3 linked regions of the Homo sapiens genome follow. The protein of the gene in region 3 interacts with the protein of the main gene of each other region in a pairwise test. Each region holds a gene or a part of one and is shown on either strand. Other genes may lie near its edges. The genes, in order: PLXNA2, RGS17 and DHX37.

What was found.
Region 1: the proteins of DHX37 (region 3) and PLXNA2 interact in a two-hybrid assay, tested with the Homo sapiens proteins (one large-scale study listed by IntAct).
Region 2: the proteins of DHX37 (region 3) and RGS17 interact in a two-hybrid assay, tested with the Homo sapiens proteins (one large-scale study listed by BioGRID).

Annotation. Positions count from the first base shown.
Region 1 is NC_000001.11:208,213,234-208,216,884, forward strand, and holds part of PLXNA2 (plexin-A2 precursor), read right to left. Parts: coding exon 3,502-3,651; intron 3,486-3,501; exon of another isoform or gene 3,402-3,485; intron 1-3,401. UniProt on the Homo sapiens protein: Coreceptor for SEMA3A and SEMA6A. Necessary for signaling by SEMA6A and class 3 semaphorins and subsequent remodeling of the cytoskeleton. Plays a role in axon guidance, invasive growth and cell migration.
Region 2 is NC_000006.12:153,026,757-153,030,407, reverse strand, and holds part of RGS17 (regulator of G-protein signaling 17), read left to right. Parts: intron 1-3,651. UniProt on the Homo sapiens protein: Regulates G protein-coupled receptor signaling cascades, including signaling via muscarinic acetylcholine receptor CHRM2 and dopamine receptor DRD2.
Region 3 is NC_000012.12:124,964,981-124,968,631, forward strand, and holds part of DHX37 (probable ATP-dependent RNA helicase DHX37), read right to left. Parts: coding exon 3,554-3,651; intron 2,239-3,553; coding exon 2,143-2,238; intron 1,899-2,142; coding exon 1,813-1,898; intron 833-1,812; coding exon 688-832; intron 27-687; coding exon 1-26. UniProt on the Homo sapiens protein: ATP-binding RNA helicase that plays a role in maturation of the small ribosomal subunit in ribosome biogenesis. Required for the release of the U3 snoRNP from pre-ribosomal particles.

The sequences.
Region 1 (3,651 bases), on a different chromosome or scaffold from region 3:
GTTTTTCAATATATTGTTAGATATTCCCAAACACCTGATGCACCTTTACTTTTGCTCAAATGGTGAGAGCTTGGTGTATGGCTTTCCTTGGAAACAGAAGGGCTCAATAGAGAGAGACTGGACTAAGAAGTAATACAGCCGAACTAAATTCAAATCCCCGCTTTATCACTTATAGCTGTGGAGATCTGAGCAACTTACTTAGTCTTTGTGAGCCTTTGTTTTTTAATCTGTAAAATGGGGAAGATAACTCTTGCTTTATGGGGTCATTGTGAGGAGCAAGTGAGATAACACTTAAATTGCCAAGCTTAGCCTTTAGGACTAGCTGCTATTCAATGAGTGATAGCCCCCTTCTTCCTCTCTTTTCTGGGATCAGAGCTCAAATTTTTGATCTGAGATTTCCATGTTATTCCAGAGTCATGTTAAAATCAAGCTCTGGGACCACAGCTTCTTTCATTTATCCTTATTCCCCTCTAAGGCCACCAAAATATTTCTGGGTCCCTGGGTCTTAGTTCTTTGGAGTATCAGGGTCTTTAAGGGGCCATTCCTCTTGCAGCCCTTGCACCAGAAGGGTGTGGTGCTGAAGGGGTGGAGGCAAGGGGCTCTCCACTCTAAGGTCCTGGCCCCACTCACTGTCACCTCTCTCCCAGTGCCTTTGCTATCCTTTTGTAACTAGCCCAGGCTTGTCCCTCTGCTCTGGAGCAGAGAAGAGTGTCATCTTCCTCTTTCCTCTGGCTCAGAAGCAGGCAGGAATCAGCAGTTTCCTCCTGACAAGGCCCCCTCTGGGTTATGGGAACTAGGCTGGACTCTGCAAGCATTTAACCCTTACGGAGGGTTACATTTCCTCTCCACCTCTCCACATTGGTTACGGCCAGTGGCCATAAAATTTTGGCGTTAAAAAAAAAAAAACCAAAGACTATCTAGTCTAGCTTCCTCATTTTACAACAGTAAGATAACTAAGAAAATAGCTGGCTCTTTACTACTGTGATTAATATTAATAATCATAGCGGCCCATTTATTGAATGCTTATTATGTTCCAGGTATTGTGCTAAGCACTTTACATAAATTTTCCATTTGATCCTCATAATAACCATGAAAAGAAGACAATATTATCTCTATTTTAAAGACGAAAAATTTACAGCTCAGACCAGGTACATAACTTGCCCAAAGTCACACAAGGAGTAAGTGGTAGGACTGATTTTTAATCCCCATCTGGTTTACTTCAAAGCCTTAACCACGACTCTTCTACCACACCAAGCAAATGATGACAGGAATAGAAGCGTAGCCTTGGAATGATGTTTTCTTGCTTCAAGTACTGGTGCTTGGTCCCAACGGCAGGCACCTTCAATTTAGAGTACTCAGAAGGTAGCCGTATGGGCCCCTTGGTCTCATATATTTTTTTCTAGGTTGCAGATCCAGAGCCCTCAGCACTGTGTACAAGAAACCTACTTTTGCACTTCTCACACTCCCTGTTAACTCCCTGTGTAATAATAAACCTAACATTTCCAGGCATGGTGCTAATCTCTCCATGTATTATCTCATCTGATCATCCCATGAGCTAGGCATTATTATTTCCATCTCACAGATAAGAATGTAGAGATGCTAAGGTGCTTCTGAAGAAGGCAGGAAGAAACACAGATGGAATTTGAAGCCTGGCTTTTGTCTCAGAACCTCAAACTCTGAGCCACTACATTATGTTGCCAGCTGTCTCTAGCTCTCTCTCTCTTCCTCTCTCTCTCTCTCTTCCCCCTACTAGATTATAAGATCTGTGAGACTAGTGATCATGTCTTTTTTTTTTCTGAGACAGGGTCTCACTCTGTCACCCAGGCTGGAGTATAGTAGCACAATCTTGGCTCACTGCAACCTCCACCTCCCATGCTCAGGCCTCCAGAGTAGCTGGTACTACAGGTGTGCATCACCACACCCAGCTAATTTTTGGAATTTTTGTAGAGACGGAGTTTTGTCATGTTGCCCAGGCTGGTCTCGAACTCCTGAGCTCAAGCAATCTGCCTACCTTAGCCTGCCAAAGTGCTGGGAGTACAGGTGTGAGCCACCGCACCCAGCCGATCATGTCTTTTTATGTTTGCAACCCCAGTGCCTAGTACAGTGCCAGGCATTCAGAAGATCTTCAATACTACTTGTAAATGAATAGAGGGATGGGTAGATGGATGATGGTGGATGAATAAAGAGAGGGATGAATGGATAGATGGAGGGCTAGGTAGACAAATGGATGATGGATAGATAAAGATATGGAGACATAGATTAAGGGAGAAAAAAGAGGGATGAGTGGATAAAGAGATGGATGAAGGGATGGAGGAAGGGATGGAGGAAAGAATGAAGGGAAGGATCAGGGACAGATGAATGGAGGTTTAGGTAAATAGGTGAATAGATGGATGGATGGATGATGGATGGATGGATGGATGGAGAGATGCATGGAGGGAGAGAGCTAAGGAGGATGGAGGGATAGATGGATAGGAGAATAAAAGGAGGGAAGGAAAGGGGATGGATGAAAGGAGAGATGGGTGGATAAATGAATGGATGATTGGATGGTTGGATGAATGATGGAAGAAGAGTGGATCATGAATACTTTGATGGCAGCACCATGAGCCGCTGACAGGGCAGTGCTTGCCACTGATTTTCTTGTCTCTGCTTTCCTCAGGTCTGGATTCTGAGCTTTTCATCCTCTCCTCTTTTGCCTTTGCCCACACTCCTGATTCTTCTCCAGTTTTCCATCAGTTGGTCAAGCCAGACTCCCTTCCCTCTCCTCTGACTTAGATTTCTGATCTCCACTTGACCCCCTCACTGGGAACCACAGTGGCCTACAGCTCTGTGTGTACATGACCTGGTCCCCATTACTTCTGATGGACCCCATCACCTGCTGCTCTTTCTCTCACATACTCTGATCTGGCTGCAGTTGCCTCCTTACTGTTCCTCAGACACTCCAGGCATGCCCTGAATTCTTTGCACATTCTCCTCACCCTTTCTCTCTCTGGAATGCTTTCTCTGGACACTTGTGTGGCTCCCTTTCTTCCCATCCTCAGTTTTTGCTTAGACACCACTTTCTCAATGAGTCAGTCCTCTCAGCTACTGCCTCTCCCCCTTTCCTGTTTATTTTTCTCTATAGCCATTATCACCATTTGGCAAACTAACATGTATTATGTGTTCATTTGTCTCACCCAACTAGCGTGTAATCTCCATGAGGGCAGTGAGCTTTGTAGGGTTGTATGGTTCACAGCTGAAGCCTGCAGCATTTACAATAGCACCTGATGTGATGTAGGCACTCAATACATATATTTGAAATGACAACAAATCAACACACATATCTCAAGTATCTGGTGTACGTAAGACCCTGCGTTATTGGTTACCACCTGATAACCTGAGTCTGAAAACCTCTTTCATTTCAGGTCCATGGTGGTGTGGGAGCAGATGTGCCCCAGGGCATGGACAGGAAGGTTGGAACCTGTGTCATGGAGCAGGAGCAGAGCGAGGTGTGTGCCTCCTTACCGCCTTGGTGCACTGGACGTCCTTCCCCAGCAGCCAGTTGAGCTCCAGGTTGCCCTCGCCCTGGTAGCAGGACTGCAGGCGCTCCTTGATCTGCAAGTTGATGGCCCGGATAGGGAAGGCACACAGGGCAGAGTCATCGGGCGGGTGGTG
Region 2 (3,651 bases), on a different chromosome or scaffold from region 3:
TACCATGGCTACTGGTAAGTTTTATCTTCTTTGCAACCATTTTAACAGTTTTTCTTAAGAACCAATTGTTTTCCTTACAATAGAAGAGTGTCTTCCAAAATAGACCCTGCGCATATCCATGATGACAGATCAGTAGATAAACTGTATAATTGGCAGCAGGTAATGTTTTTTCTCACTCCACTGTCCACACTCCCCTGTAAACAAACAATCCACCCCCATAGAGAGGGGGCACATTTTCTTAAGTTCTCAAATGTCACAAGTATTTTTCCTCCCTTTTCAAAGTCACTATTTAGAAAATCTCTAATGGGATTTTAAATGCTTATTTTAGTATATTTGGCCAAGGATATTGGCACTTTTCTTCCATAAAGTATTTAAGGTTTGATCAAGACCCTCACAGTGAGCACTGTGTATGTGTTTAGTTCTCTTTGTGGCTTTTATTGCTTAAAAAGTAGAAATGTTAGTTTTAAATGTTACATACATAAAAGTCAGTGGGGGAGTGTCTCTTCTTGGAGAGATATGGGCTAAAAAGAAAAAACAAGACATGTAATCCCAGCATTTTGGGAGGCCAAAGTGGGTGGATCACAAGGTCAGGAGTTCAAGACCAGCCTGACCAACATGGTGAAACCCTGTCTCTACTAAAAATACAAAAATTAGCTGGGCATGGTGGCGGGTGCCTGTAATCCCAGCTACTCAGGAAGCTGAGGCAGGAGAATCACTTGAACCCGGGAGGCGGAGCTTGCAGTGAGCTGAGATCATGCCATTGCACTCCAGCCTGGGCAACAGAGCAACACTCCGTCTTAAAAAAAAAAAGAAAAAGAAAAAGAAAAAAAAAAGTGTCTCTATGGGACCCTCAAAACTGTTGATCTGGTATTTTCCTTTTAGGGCTTTCCTCAAACACATATAACATATATAAGTTGGTCTAGAGCAAATATTTCCAGTGAATTAATAAAAACAACAACAACAATGCACTACTTGGAGCAGGACCAGGTAGGACAGACATTAGTCAATATCAAGACAGACAAACTGTTAAGTATTAATCCCTTGTCTATTTTCTCCATTTCTCTTTAACTTAAAATGGTATTTTCAGCAGTTCTTGATAACTGAAACCTTGAAACCCATTTTTTAAGACCGGTAGTAAAGGACAGTTAATAAAAAGGACAATTTGTCTGTTGCCAAAGTTCAATTTCTACAGGGCAAGACTGTGGCCAATAGTAGATCAAGAGCTGCACAGTGAATAGTTAAACATTTACTGAATGTCTGTTGTAAGTAGTTTTAGTCCAAATGTGTGTCCATATTTTACCACCTGTAGAAAAGAAAGATGTAAACTCAACCTAATATTTCGTAATGATCGCTCTAATATGGTAGCATTTGGGATGTTTGTAAATATCACAGAAACAGATAGAAGAGCCAGAATTCATGTTCAGAAACTCGTGATTCATGCCTGTAGACTCCAGATTTGTCACTCTACGGCAAAGGCACAACGGAGAAAAAAATTTCTCAAAGATGTTTAATGAAATGAAGTATACCTGCGTCATGTGTACTGCCTTCTGTAGAACACTGTGTGGAAATGTAATAAAAATAAACTCAAGGAGTTTATTATTTAAGCAGGGGATGAAAGCTCTTTTGCTAGTTGTGTTATAGTGCCTTAATATGTGTTTGCACACACACATAGAAGCTCAATAAAGGTTGACAGAATGAGTATCAATTTCCTATTTTAAAAAGAGCTGAATAGAATTTACCAAAAAATTGTACATTTTATATATACAGGAAGTTTTACAGAATATTGTCAGCAGTGTATCCCCCCCCATCCACTTTTCCCATCATGACTGGAAATACATCAAATTCCAGAGAAGAACTTTCTTACTCATTCATGAATCTCCTCTAAAATACTTATCTGGCCTATTTGTATAGTGACATAGAGGACTGAGGTTTCCCAGGCTATCTCAAACCTCAGACACATTCACAGCACTCACACGCAAATACCTCCAAAATTATGCACTGTCTCTGAATTCCTCCCCAAAATTACACTACGCTAAAGGCTTTGCTGTCTCTAACCCTGGGACTGCTGCCTCCAGCAGGGGTCTAGTCAATGTGCAGCAGGTCCAAGGGACCATCCACTCTAGTTTCTGCTCCCCAGAATCCTTCTGGGCTACATTACCTTTCCCTCCATGGTTCGACACCAATAAACCTGCCCCTGTCCCTAGAAATGGGTAGAGGCAAACTCAATGTATTTCACTATGAAATCCTATGTTTTCTATGTCCTTTTCCTGACTACAGAATCCTTTTCAATTCCTATTGGGTTCTCCTTTTTCCAGTGAGTCTGCTCTCTCAGGTCAGTTTTCCTATCTAGCCTCACTTTCCATTGTAGATGGGCCCGCTTGTCAGAAATTAATATTTCCCTTTGCTCCATTCTCTCCGTCCTCACGCTTGCACTTGAGAATGAAAGAAGGAATTAAGGAGACATTGTCTTGGTTTCTCTTATCAGACTTTCCAGATTGAGAATAACTGCTTGTTGGGCACCTCTTCCTAAACACTTTCTTTCCATACCAACGATGTTTAGTGACCCTTCTTTGCATTCACATAGTAAGTGGTCTATGACCTCAGTGTCTATCAGCAGCCATGGTTCATAGCAGGCACTCAGAAATACAGGGTTGTTGAACAGGGTAGGCTTCCAATTCCAACTATAGCACCTATTTAGTGTTCGGTTTTGGGCCAGCCTCCCAGACGGGTCTGCACCTCACTTTGCTCATCTGTAAAATGGGGATAATAATATTAATGGTAAAAGAATGGTGCCCAGCACATAACAGGCACTAGAAAATCATCATTTCCATTGCTTCTTATTTTGAGTAAGTAAGTGAAAGAAGGAACAAATGAGAGATGTTATCTGAACTTCTTGTGCTCTCTGCCAGGCTCTTAAGCTCCTCGGCTTCTAGACAGAGGGATCAGTTGGCTAATTTGGGAGCTCAAATTTTCCCGAGCCACTGAGTTATTCTCCCTACCCTGCTTCTTAGTATCTCCCATGACCTCACCTGTTGTTTCTAGTCCACACCGAGAGTTTTCGGTGTTTTGCCCTAAAGCACTGCTCAGCTTTAGGGAGCAATTGTCATTGGACAATTCTTATTCTTATTCTTGTTCTGGGCTACTAAAACCTTCGGCATTATCCTCTGTCCTCTATGATGCTGTAGAATTCCCAAACCTATGCTACACAGACACACACCCCTCCCACCCAATGCTCACCTGTTCCAAATGCTCAGTTACTGGTCTGTCCCTTTCAAGACCTTGGACATTGATTTACTGGGGTGAAAGGGCAAAAACAAAGTCAAATATAAATCCGGTAGCTTGATTTTAGCAATTGAAGGAATGATATTATCGGTAACAATGTAAATTTAGCAAAATCTGTATTAGATTCTGACACATTGTATCTTATTAGCTCTCAATCGGGGAAAATTAATGGAAAACAGACTATGAATAGAATTAACCAAAAATCAAAATGACATTTTGTTTAAAGAGTAAGGTAATCATATGTGTGTGTGTGTATATACATATATATATAATATTAAGGCATTTAATCATATATCTCAGAAATATTCAGTAATTCAGATTATGTAAGGATGAAGTCAGAATATTTAACAATATCCACTTTTGGGAGTC
Region 3 (3,651 bases):
CGGGAGGGAGGCATCCGGCTGCTCACCTGGAGGGAAAGCAGAGGTCACTGGCACCCAGGCCGGGACAGATGCCCACAGGCAGGAGCTGGCCACAGCGGCCCTGCACCCCCAGGCTGCTCCACCAGAGCTCCTTTCTTTGCCCTGCTGCAGAGGCTCCCCTTGGGACCAGCCAGGCCAAGCCTGGGGGAACTGCTGAGAGGTTCCCAGGGGCTCTCTTGTCTCTGCTGCCCTGAACCGGATCTGAACCCCTGTGCTGCACAATCTCCTCCTCCAAACCCCTGGCATGGATCCCGGGAGCCTGACTCCACTCCTCGTGTCCTGGCAGCATTGTGGTGGGGTCAGGCTGAGCCCGTACTGGGGTACTCTCTGCTGCCCCACTCAGCCCCTGGCTGGGCACAGCAGGGCACTGGGTCTGCCTGCATTCAGGGGGCCCCTGCGAGCACACGGAGCTGGGCAACACCCCCAGGCTCTGAAGGCCTGCGTCCCTCAGCAAGGGGTTGGCAGCCCCCATTACATTCAACATGGCAAATGTTTGAGGCCTCCTCGTGCCAGGCAGTTTCAAGAACTCAGGAAGCATCGGGGACAAAGCTGCTAGAACCCCGGCCCCCGGGGGGCCCACAAGGGCTCTGGGCACATCCTCAGGGCAGAGATAATGAACATGAGCAGGAATCGGTGCTCGGGCCACACCTCCATCTTGCCCGCCATCCCCCAGGTCCAGATCGAGGTCGGAGTCCAGGGCCCCCTCTTCCTCATCCACTTCTGCCTCCCTGTCCTCATCGCCTTCGCCTGCCGGTAACACCGAGTAATGATCCAAGTTGATCTGGGGCAGCACCTACGGCGAACAAGACATAGACACCTGGGCTGCAGGGATCCTGGGTGTGAGGACGTGGCACGTGCAGGAAGACAGGTGCCCTCGCATGGAAGCCCCGGTCCACACCCATGGGCCATGCAACCCGGGGCAGGCCACATAATTCTCTCTTCCTGCCAGAATTTCCCCACCTAAACATTGGGGACTATCATAGACCTTGTCTCCCAGGCTGGTGGGAGGGTTGTGTGAACACACGTGAGGAACCTGGATCGCTGCCTGACACATCGGTAGTGCAACAGGCAAGTCAGAGACGGCTGAGTGCTTACGCTACCGTCACGGAGCACAAGACCCACGGTGCCTTCACGCAGAGGCTAGAGGAAAGCCCCTGCCAGCCCAGCCATCCCAGAGTAGCTGGGAGTACAGGTGCACACCACCATGCCTGGCTAATTTTGTATTTTTAGTAGAGACAGGGTTTCGCCATGTTGGTCAGGTTGGACTTGAACTCCTGACCTCAGGTGATCCACCTGCCTCAGTCTCCCAAAGTGCTGGGATTACAGGCGTAGCCACCACGCCTGGCCTTCTTTTCCATTTCTGAGACAGAGTCTCACTCTGTTGCCCAGGCTAGAGTGCAGTGGGACCATCACAGCTCATTGCAGCCTTGACCTCCTGGGCTCAGATGGTTCTCCCACCTCAGCCTCTGAGCAGCTGGGACCACAGGCATGCGCCACTGCACTGGATTAATCTAAAAAATTTTTTGTAGAGACATGGTCTCACCATGTTGCCCAAGCTGGTCTCAAACTCTAGGCCTCAAGCGATCCTCCCACCTTGGCCTCCCAAAGTGCTGGAATTACAGGCATGAGCCACTGTGCCTGACCAGGAACTGGATTTTTAACTTCATTTTATTCCAATTACACTTAAACCTAAGCAGCCACATGGGGCTGGTAGCTGCCATCCTGGACAACGCAGCCTTACTCTCCAGGAGTCCCTGCCAGCCCCCCACGTACCTCAGCCCGCGCCTTCTTGGCCCTGGCCCTTGACTTCTTAAACTTCCGCATTTCCTCCACCGAGTCTTTCTGATCGTCGTCCTTTTCTGGGAGAGGGGCAGGTTGGGGAGAAAGGCGTCTGTGGCCGGCGTGGTCGCCAGCACACTGCCCTTTGTTGTTCAAGGCATGGCCACTCAGTGGTGGCCATTTATTCGGGGGTGAGGTGGGGGATGGCAAAGGTGCTGATGCTTCCAGAGAGAAGCTCAGAGGCAGGAGCTGCACCCCAGCCAGGGAGCGCGAGGCCAAGCCCAGCTGCTCAGGGCAGAGTGCTGGTCGGGGCGTCCTCTTTACCTTGTGGCCGGGCTCTGGAGGGTGGGAAAGCCTTCCTGAGCCTGCGGCACAGCGCATGCACCTCAGCCTGCCCCGTCAGGAACACCAGGATGCCACCTGTGGAAAGAATGGGCCCCTCTGTTATCCATCAGTCACTCACAAACATTTGCTTAGCAAAAGCACCTGCCAAGCCATGCTCTGAGAGGCAAGGTTCCAGGGATAATGGGGGAGGACAGGAGTACACAGACATAGATGAGCAGGGGGCAGCACGCCCAGACTGAAGCAGCTGCCGCCAGGGAGTTCAACAAACACGGCGACTGCACAGCCCAGCAGCATCACTCCCAGGAACAGACCCAAAAGCCCTGAGAAGCGTGCTCACACGGAACCCTGCACACCACACTCACGACAGTGACAGCGCCGCGGCTGCCCTGAGACCTGAGGCTGCAGGAAGGCTCACTGCCCAAGCTCCAGCCTCACCTCCTGCCAGCCCCAGTCTCCCAGAGAATGGATGGGAGCCCCGAAAGGCCATAAGCAGAGCAAGGACAGAGCATCACGAAGCAGCAACCTCGGCTTCCTTGAAGGACGAGGTCAAGCTTGTTGGGAAGCACCCCCATGGCTCCTTGCCTCCCTAACATGAAGAAAGCCAGCCTTGGGCCCAAATTCGGCACACAAGAGTCTCTGGCTAGGCTGGGTGCAGTGGCTCACACTTGTAATTCCAGCACTTTGGGAGGCTGAGGCAGGCAGCTCACCTGAGGTCAGGAGTTCGAGACCAGCCCGGCCAACATGATGAAACCCCATCTCTACTAAAATACAAAAAATTAGCCAGGCGTGGCAGTGTGCGACCAGTGTGGGACCTGTAATCCCAGCTACTTGGGAGGCTGAGGCAGGAGAATCACTTGAACCCGGGAGGTGGAGGTTGCAGTGAGCCAAGATCTGCCACTGCACTCCAGCCTGGGCAACAAGAGTAAAACTCCGTCTCAAAAAAAAAAAGTCTGGCTGGAAGCGATCACAATCTATTCACACAGAAAGGTCACATCCATTTCAGTAACATGAGGTGGGTAACGGAGCAGGTATGATGGGGACAAGGCAGAACTGTGAAGGGTATCCGTGACTCTTGGGGGGATGTGCCCGTTCCCCTACAGTGTCTATGGTCACCTGCCAGCACTGGCCTGGGCCCTGTGGGTTTTTCTGCTTATCAGATGGGGACAGATGGCAAGCTCCACCATCTGGTAGCTGCTGAAGCCTCATAGTATTTGGAGTGGAATAAGGCCAGACAGGTGTCATGAACACTCTGGAATAAGTGAGGAAGCCGAGGCCTGGCAGGGTCAAGGGACTTTTCTGAGCCACTCGGAGATGGGCCCTCCCACACTCGTGCTTTCAGCGAGGGTTTAGGAAGGGAGGCTTCTTTCCCCTGACCTGGCCAGGGCCTCACCTGCGGGCAGCATCCGGTGGATCTTGCAGACCTTCCGGAAGCACTCGCCACTGTAGTCTTCCAGCGGTGTCCGCTTGTTGAAATGCACAGTCACTGGG